2 separate regions of the Homo sapiens genome follow, and region 1 is linked to region 2. Evidence: fine-mapped expression QTL. Tissue or cell type: whole blood. Region 2 holds a variant in brackets; the other region holds the start of a gene. All regions are shown on one strand. Distances are from middle to middle.

What was found. PIP is the estimated chance that this variant, and not a neighbour inherited with it, causes the effect. A credible set is the group of variants that fine-mapping cannot tell apart.
Region 1: TMC6 starts here. The variant in region 2 is the best candidate, but not a certain one, in a credible set for the expression of TMC6 in whole blood (INTERVAL, PIP 0.83).

What each region holds. Positions count from the first base shown.
Region 1 is chr17:78,127,561-78,130,225 of GRCh38, reverse strand. It overlaps TMC6 (transmembrane channel like 6), which reads left to right and starts at 1,471. Exons shown (of 20, transcript NM_001127198.5): 1 at 1,471-1,614. RefSeq lists a silencer at 1,378-1,907 and an enhancer at 2,588-2,665.
Region 2 is chr17:78,159,127-78,161,966 of GRCh38, reverse strand. C17orf99 (chromosome 17 open reading frame 99) reads right to left here. Exons shown (of 5, transcript NM_001163075.2): 3 at 713-1,012. It also overlaps the pseudogene EIF5AP2. Among named protein-coding and RNA genes, the nearest start is that of SYNGR2, 8.0 kb to the left of the region's middle. RefSeq lists silencers at 1,538-1,587, 1,628-1,677 and an enhancer at 1,898-2,057. The variant T/C (reference allele first, on the strand shown) is at 1,184.

The DNA.
Region 1 (2,665 bases), 32 kb after region 2:
TTGGCGTTATGGTTGTGCCAAGACCCAGGCCTAGCACCTGGCCGGTAGTAAGTGCTCAGGAATTGGCTCCATTCATGCTCTCCCAGGCTAGATGTTTAAGACATATCTTTGCCAATTCTCTGTCCTTGGGCCCCTGGGAAGCCCGCAGCCCTTCCTCTCTGCTCCCTCTCTACCTGCTATAGGGCCCAGTCATCTCAGGTCTGAATGTTCATAGCTTTTCTGCCTCTCTGCCCACCTCCTTCCTGGTTTCCAGAGTCCTTTCTGTGTGTCAGGCGCAAGCTATGTGCTGGTGCTGGGCACACAGTGGGCTGGGGTAGGAGGGGGCACAGAACCACAGATGTACATGTCAATAGGAAGTGGTAGGTGCTCCACCAGGGTTCAATCTGGGGAGGCTCCCCAGAGGAGGTGGCATTCATGCAAATTCAGTGTGGGTATGCAGGGAGGGGGAAGCAGTGGGAGGAGAGGCAGGGGCTGGGTCTCCATGCCAGGGTGCCACTTGCCAAGAACCAGCTTGGGGTAGCCATCTGAGGACCACACTGGCAGCTCCAAAAGGCCCCAGCCTTGACCCCTGCCTGGTCCTCGCTTTTGCTTGCCTGCTCTCCCCTGCAGCAGTGCCCTCTCCTGCCCTCCTGGGCCCCAGCTCACATTCACCCTGCCTGCTTCATGGCTTCTCCCCGCCAGGAATGACCCTCCCTTCCAAATGGGCTTGGGGTGGGGGGTACAATCTCAAAGGCAGTTTCCTCCATAGAGTTCCCAGGTGGACCACTAAGTCTCCTGCTTTGGCTGGGGGCACCCTAAAGGGTGATTAACTTCTCTCAGCCTCAGTTTCCTCATCTGTGAAATGGGAATATCAGTGCATACCTTCCTGGCTCATGGGGAATAACAGAAAACAGGGCAACGGGTACAGCACCTGGGGACAGTCACCTAAGTGTCAGCGTGTCCTCCTTTTCATCCCCTCCTCTCCACACAGCACACAGGAAGTGAGCCAGAACTCTTGCTAGATAAACAATGAACCCCGCCCAGGTGTCAGGAGTGGGAGATAACCAGGCTCCCCCCGCCGGGGTCGGGGAGAGTCAGCAGGAGGCTTGCGGGGGCGGCGGGGGGGGGGGCGCTGCCCAATCTGGAGTGAGATACTCTGTGTCCCTGGGGCTTTCGGCGGCATCTTACTTGGACGATCCCTAACCATGGGAAGCAGATGAGTCTGGAAATATTGCCCCTTTTTGGAACTTGGGGAAACTGAGCGTCAGAAAAATTGGGGACTTCAACCAGGGGCTGGAATGAATCCAGCCCAGCTCAGACCTCAGGAGGAGGGGTCGGAAGTTGGCAGGGGAGGAAGGCATAGTCGCCGCGGGGCGCCCGGAGGAGGGCGGGGGCGCCGCGGGCCGGGCCGGGTCACGTGATAGCCGAGGCCCGCCCCCCCCCCCCCCGCCCACGTGGGCCGGGAGGTGCGGCTACTCCCCCGGCCCCGGCAGACCTGCGACTGGCCCAGTCGCCCCTGGGGCCCTTTGCCACTCCCTTGGCAAGGAGAGCCGAGACCTCAGTTCCCGGCGGCTCTTGCGGGGCACAGGTGAGCCCTGGCTGCGCGCGCGGCCCCTCCTCCCCGGCGCCTCCCAGGTGAGCGGCCGCGATCCCGGTCCCGGGTCCCGCCAGCCCCAGCTGCTTCTCCTATGCGGGGACAGCGGCAATCCCCCCTGAATTCCTTTCGGCCTCTGGGGCCATTTGGCAGCCGAGTTCCCTCCCCGGGTGCTCCTGGAGCTCCCAGGGCTTGACCCTCCGGCTCGGACAGAGCTGGGAGCGGCAGGGGCGGGGAGGACAGTGCGGGGAGCAAAATCCGCAGCCCCCACCCAGGTCCCCCAGCCGAGCGCCAGGGCACGGGGAGGGGAGGGGAGGGGGTGTGGCCGGGATGGGAAGGGGCGGGGGACAGGGAGGCCGGCTGGACGGGTTCGGTGGCCCCAGAGTTGCAGCCGCTCTGGGCTCTGGGGCCAGGTTGCGGTTCTCCCTGGGTAGCGGCTGCTCCCGGGAAGCTCGCTGCCGGCTGGGGTGGGGGTTCCTGGAAACGGGCGCCACCCAGCCTCTCCCCACCTAGCTCAGGAATGGTGCGCCTGGAAACTCCGCTGGACTTGCCTGGGCCTCGGGGCGGAGTGCTGGGGCGCTGGGTGCCCGAGTCCCCGGGTTCCCTGAGCTTAGAAGGGCCTGTCTGGAGGAAGGGATTCCAGCTCTAGGGACTGGGTGGGGCGTCCTCAGCCCCTCTTTCGGCAGCTGTCCCGTGTTAGGCTGGGTGGGGCCGCCTCGGACCCAGCTCTGGGCTGGTTTTCCCACGTCTTTGCTCCTGCTGGAGGGAGGGGGTGGTGTGGGGCCTGGGCCCGAAGATGGCACCCAGGACACTGAGGGAGGGCGCCGTCCGGTCCTGTGACTGGCACCCCTGCAAGGAGCTGCTCTGTCGGGGCGCCCCCGGGCTTTGCCTGTCCGAGGAAAGCGCCCTTCAACCCGGCCGACTTTGAGCCCTGAGTTCCTGAGGGTGAGCGCAGGAGGAGTCCAGGGCAGAGGCCGGCAGGACTCGCTGGTGGCTGGGAGCTGAGTCCTGGCTCCACTCTCACAGATGAACGGGCCCCGAGCCCAGGGCCCCAGACAAGGCTGCTCTGGTTCCAGTTGTGCCGGGTGACGG
Region 2 (2,840 bases):
AGTTTTAGCTTACATAGCTATAGACCCAGAGGCTCAGACCCCACCCCTGACACTGCTGTGAAGATCAAGCGAAGTAATGCACAAAACGTGCCTAACTTTTTTTTCGTTTCTTTTTCTTTTTTTTTTTTTTGGAGACGCTCTGTTACCCAGGCTGGAGTACAGTGGCGCAATCTTGGCTCACTGCAACCTCTGCCTCCCGGGTTCAAGCGATTCTCCTGCCTCAGCCTCCTGAGTAGCTGGAACTACAGGTGCACCCCGCCACGCCCAGCTAATCTTTGTAATTTTAGTAGGAACAGGGTTTCGCCATGTTGCCCAGGCTGGTATCGAACTCCTGGGCTCAAGCGATCAGCCTGTCTCGGCCTCCCACAGTGCTGGGATTTGCGCCCAGACAAACGTGCCTAGTTTATCACCTTGAGGTCCGAGCTGACAACTGGGGCCCAGTCATTTCTGCCACCATCGGGCTCTTTCCCTCTGTGCCCTCAGGCCCCTGCCAGGAGACTGTGCCCTCAGGGCCCCAGCCAGGGACAGCAAGTCCTGATTAAAGGCCCCAAGGGACTGAGAATGGCCTTGGAGGTGGCAGCCTGTCCTTGTCCACACCCTCACACCCTGGCTCTCTCTAACCCCAGCAAGGTTCACAATCCCCACTCCCAGAGCTCCCCATTGATCTGCACCCCACCTGCCTCCTCAGCCCTGTGCCCCCCACCGCACTCACTGGACCACAGCTCCCAGTGCATCTGTAGCCTGGCACTGTCCACATGGGCACCTGAGGTGGAGGACGCCCAGCAGAAGTAGGTGAGCAGGTCTGGACTGGACTTGAGTGTGACGTTGAGGTTGAAGGAGGCCGGCTCGTGGGTCTTCACCACCTTCTTGGCCACCTTGATGTTCTTGGTTCCACAGAGGGAATAGGTGATGGGCGGTGGTGGCTGGGGTGCACAGCAGGTTATGAGCACCCAGCGGCCTTTGGGGAAAACTTCCAGGACTTTGTAGGCAATGGAGACCACAGGGGTAATTTCTGGGAGATGAAAAGGTCCAAGGAGGAAGAAAGAAACCGACATTGATCAAGCACCTTAAGAAGGTACTGGTTTGGCCAGGCTCGGTGGCAAACACCTGTAATCCCAGTGTTTGGGAGGTCCAGGTGGACGGATCACTTGAGGTCAGGAGTTCAAAACCAGTGTAGCCAACA[T/C]GGTGAAAGTCTGTCTCTACTAAAATACAAAAATTAGCCGGGCGTGGTGGTGCCCACCTGTAATCCCTGCTACTCGGGAAGCTAAGGCAGGAGAATCTCTTGAACCAGGAAGGCGGAGGTGGCAGGTGGCAGTGAGCCGAGATCACACCACTGCACTCCAGCCTGGGCGACAGAGGGAGACTCAGGAAAAAAAGAAAAAGGATGCTGGGTTTAGCATGTTCTCTCTCTCTCTCTCTTTTTTTTTTTTTTAGATGGAGTCTTGCTCTGTCACCCAGGCTGGAGTGCAGTGGCGCGATCTCTGCTCACCACAACCTTCGCCTCCTGAGTTCAAGTGATTCTCCTGCTTCAGCCTCCCGAATAGCTGGGACTGCAGGCGCGTGCCACCACGCCTGGCTAATTTTTGTATTTTTAGTAGAGACAGGGTTTCACCATGTTGGTCAGGCTGGTCTCAAACTCCTGACCTCGTGATCCACCCGCCTTGGCCTCCCAAAGTGCTGGGATTACAGGCGTGAGCCACCGCGCCCGGCTGCAATTTACTTCTATAACAAACCTGCACATGTACCCCTGAACCTAAAAATTACAAATAAATAAGTGAAACCAGTAGACCTCAGAGTAAAGAAAAAAGAAAGAAAGAAAATACTGATTTAGTGGTTCCTCAAAAAGTTAAACAGACTTACCATATGACTCAACAATTCCAGGCCTAGACATACACCAAATAATAGAAAACAGGGACTCAAACAGATACCTGTACACACACGCTCATGGCAGCGTGATTCACCACAGCCAAATGGTGGAAACGGCCCAAATATCTATCAATGGACGAATGGGTAAATAGAATGTGGTTGATCCATATAAGGAATATTACTCAGCCTTAGAAAGAAATGAGCACAGATGCAGGCTGCAACAGGGATGAGCCGTAACAACATTCCACTAAACAAAAAGGCAGACGCAAAGGGCAACGGTTGCATGATTCCATGTGTGTGCAAAGTTCAGAACAGGAGAACCCACAGAGACAGAAAGCAGATTGGTGGTTACTGGGGCCCAGGGGAGGGGGAAATGGGGAGTAACTGCCTAATAGATACGGGGTTTCCTTTTGGGGTGATGAAAATCTCTCGGAACTAGATAGCGGTGGTGGTTGAGCAACACTATGGATGCACTAAATGCTGCTGAATTATCACTTTTTTTTTTTTTTGAGACAGAGTCTTGCACTGTCGCCTCCCGTGTTCAAGAGATTCTCGTGCCTCAGCCTCCAGAGTAGCTGGGATTACAGGCACCCACCACTACGCCTGGCTAATTTTTGTATTTTTAGTAGACATGGGGTTTCATCATGTTGGCCAGACTGGTCTTGAACTCGAGACCTCAGGTGGTCTGGCCACCTCAGCCTCCCAAAGTGCTGGGATTACAGATGTGAGCCACTGCGCCCGGCCCACTTTTATTTATTTATTTAAAGACAGAGTCTTGCTCTGTCGTCCAGAATGGAGTGCAGTAGCACGATCTCAGCTCACTGCAACCTCCACCTCCTGGGTTCAAGCGATTCTCCTGTCTCAGCCTACCATGTAGTGGGGACTCCAGGCATGCACCACCATGCCCAGCTAATTTTTGTATTTTTAGTAGAGACGGGGTTTTTTCTTTTCCTTTTTTTTTTAAATCATATTAA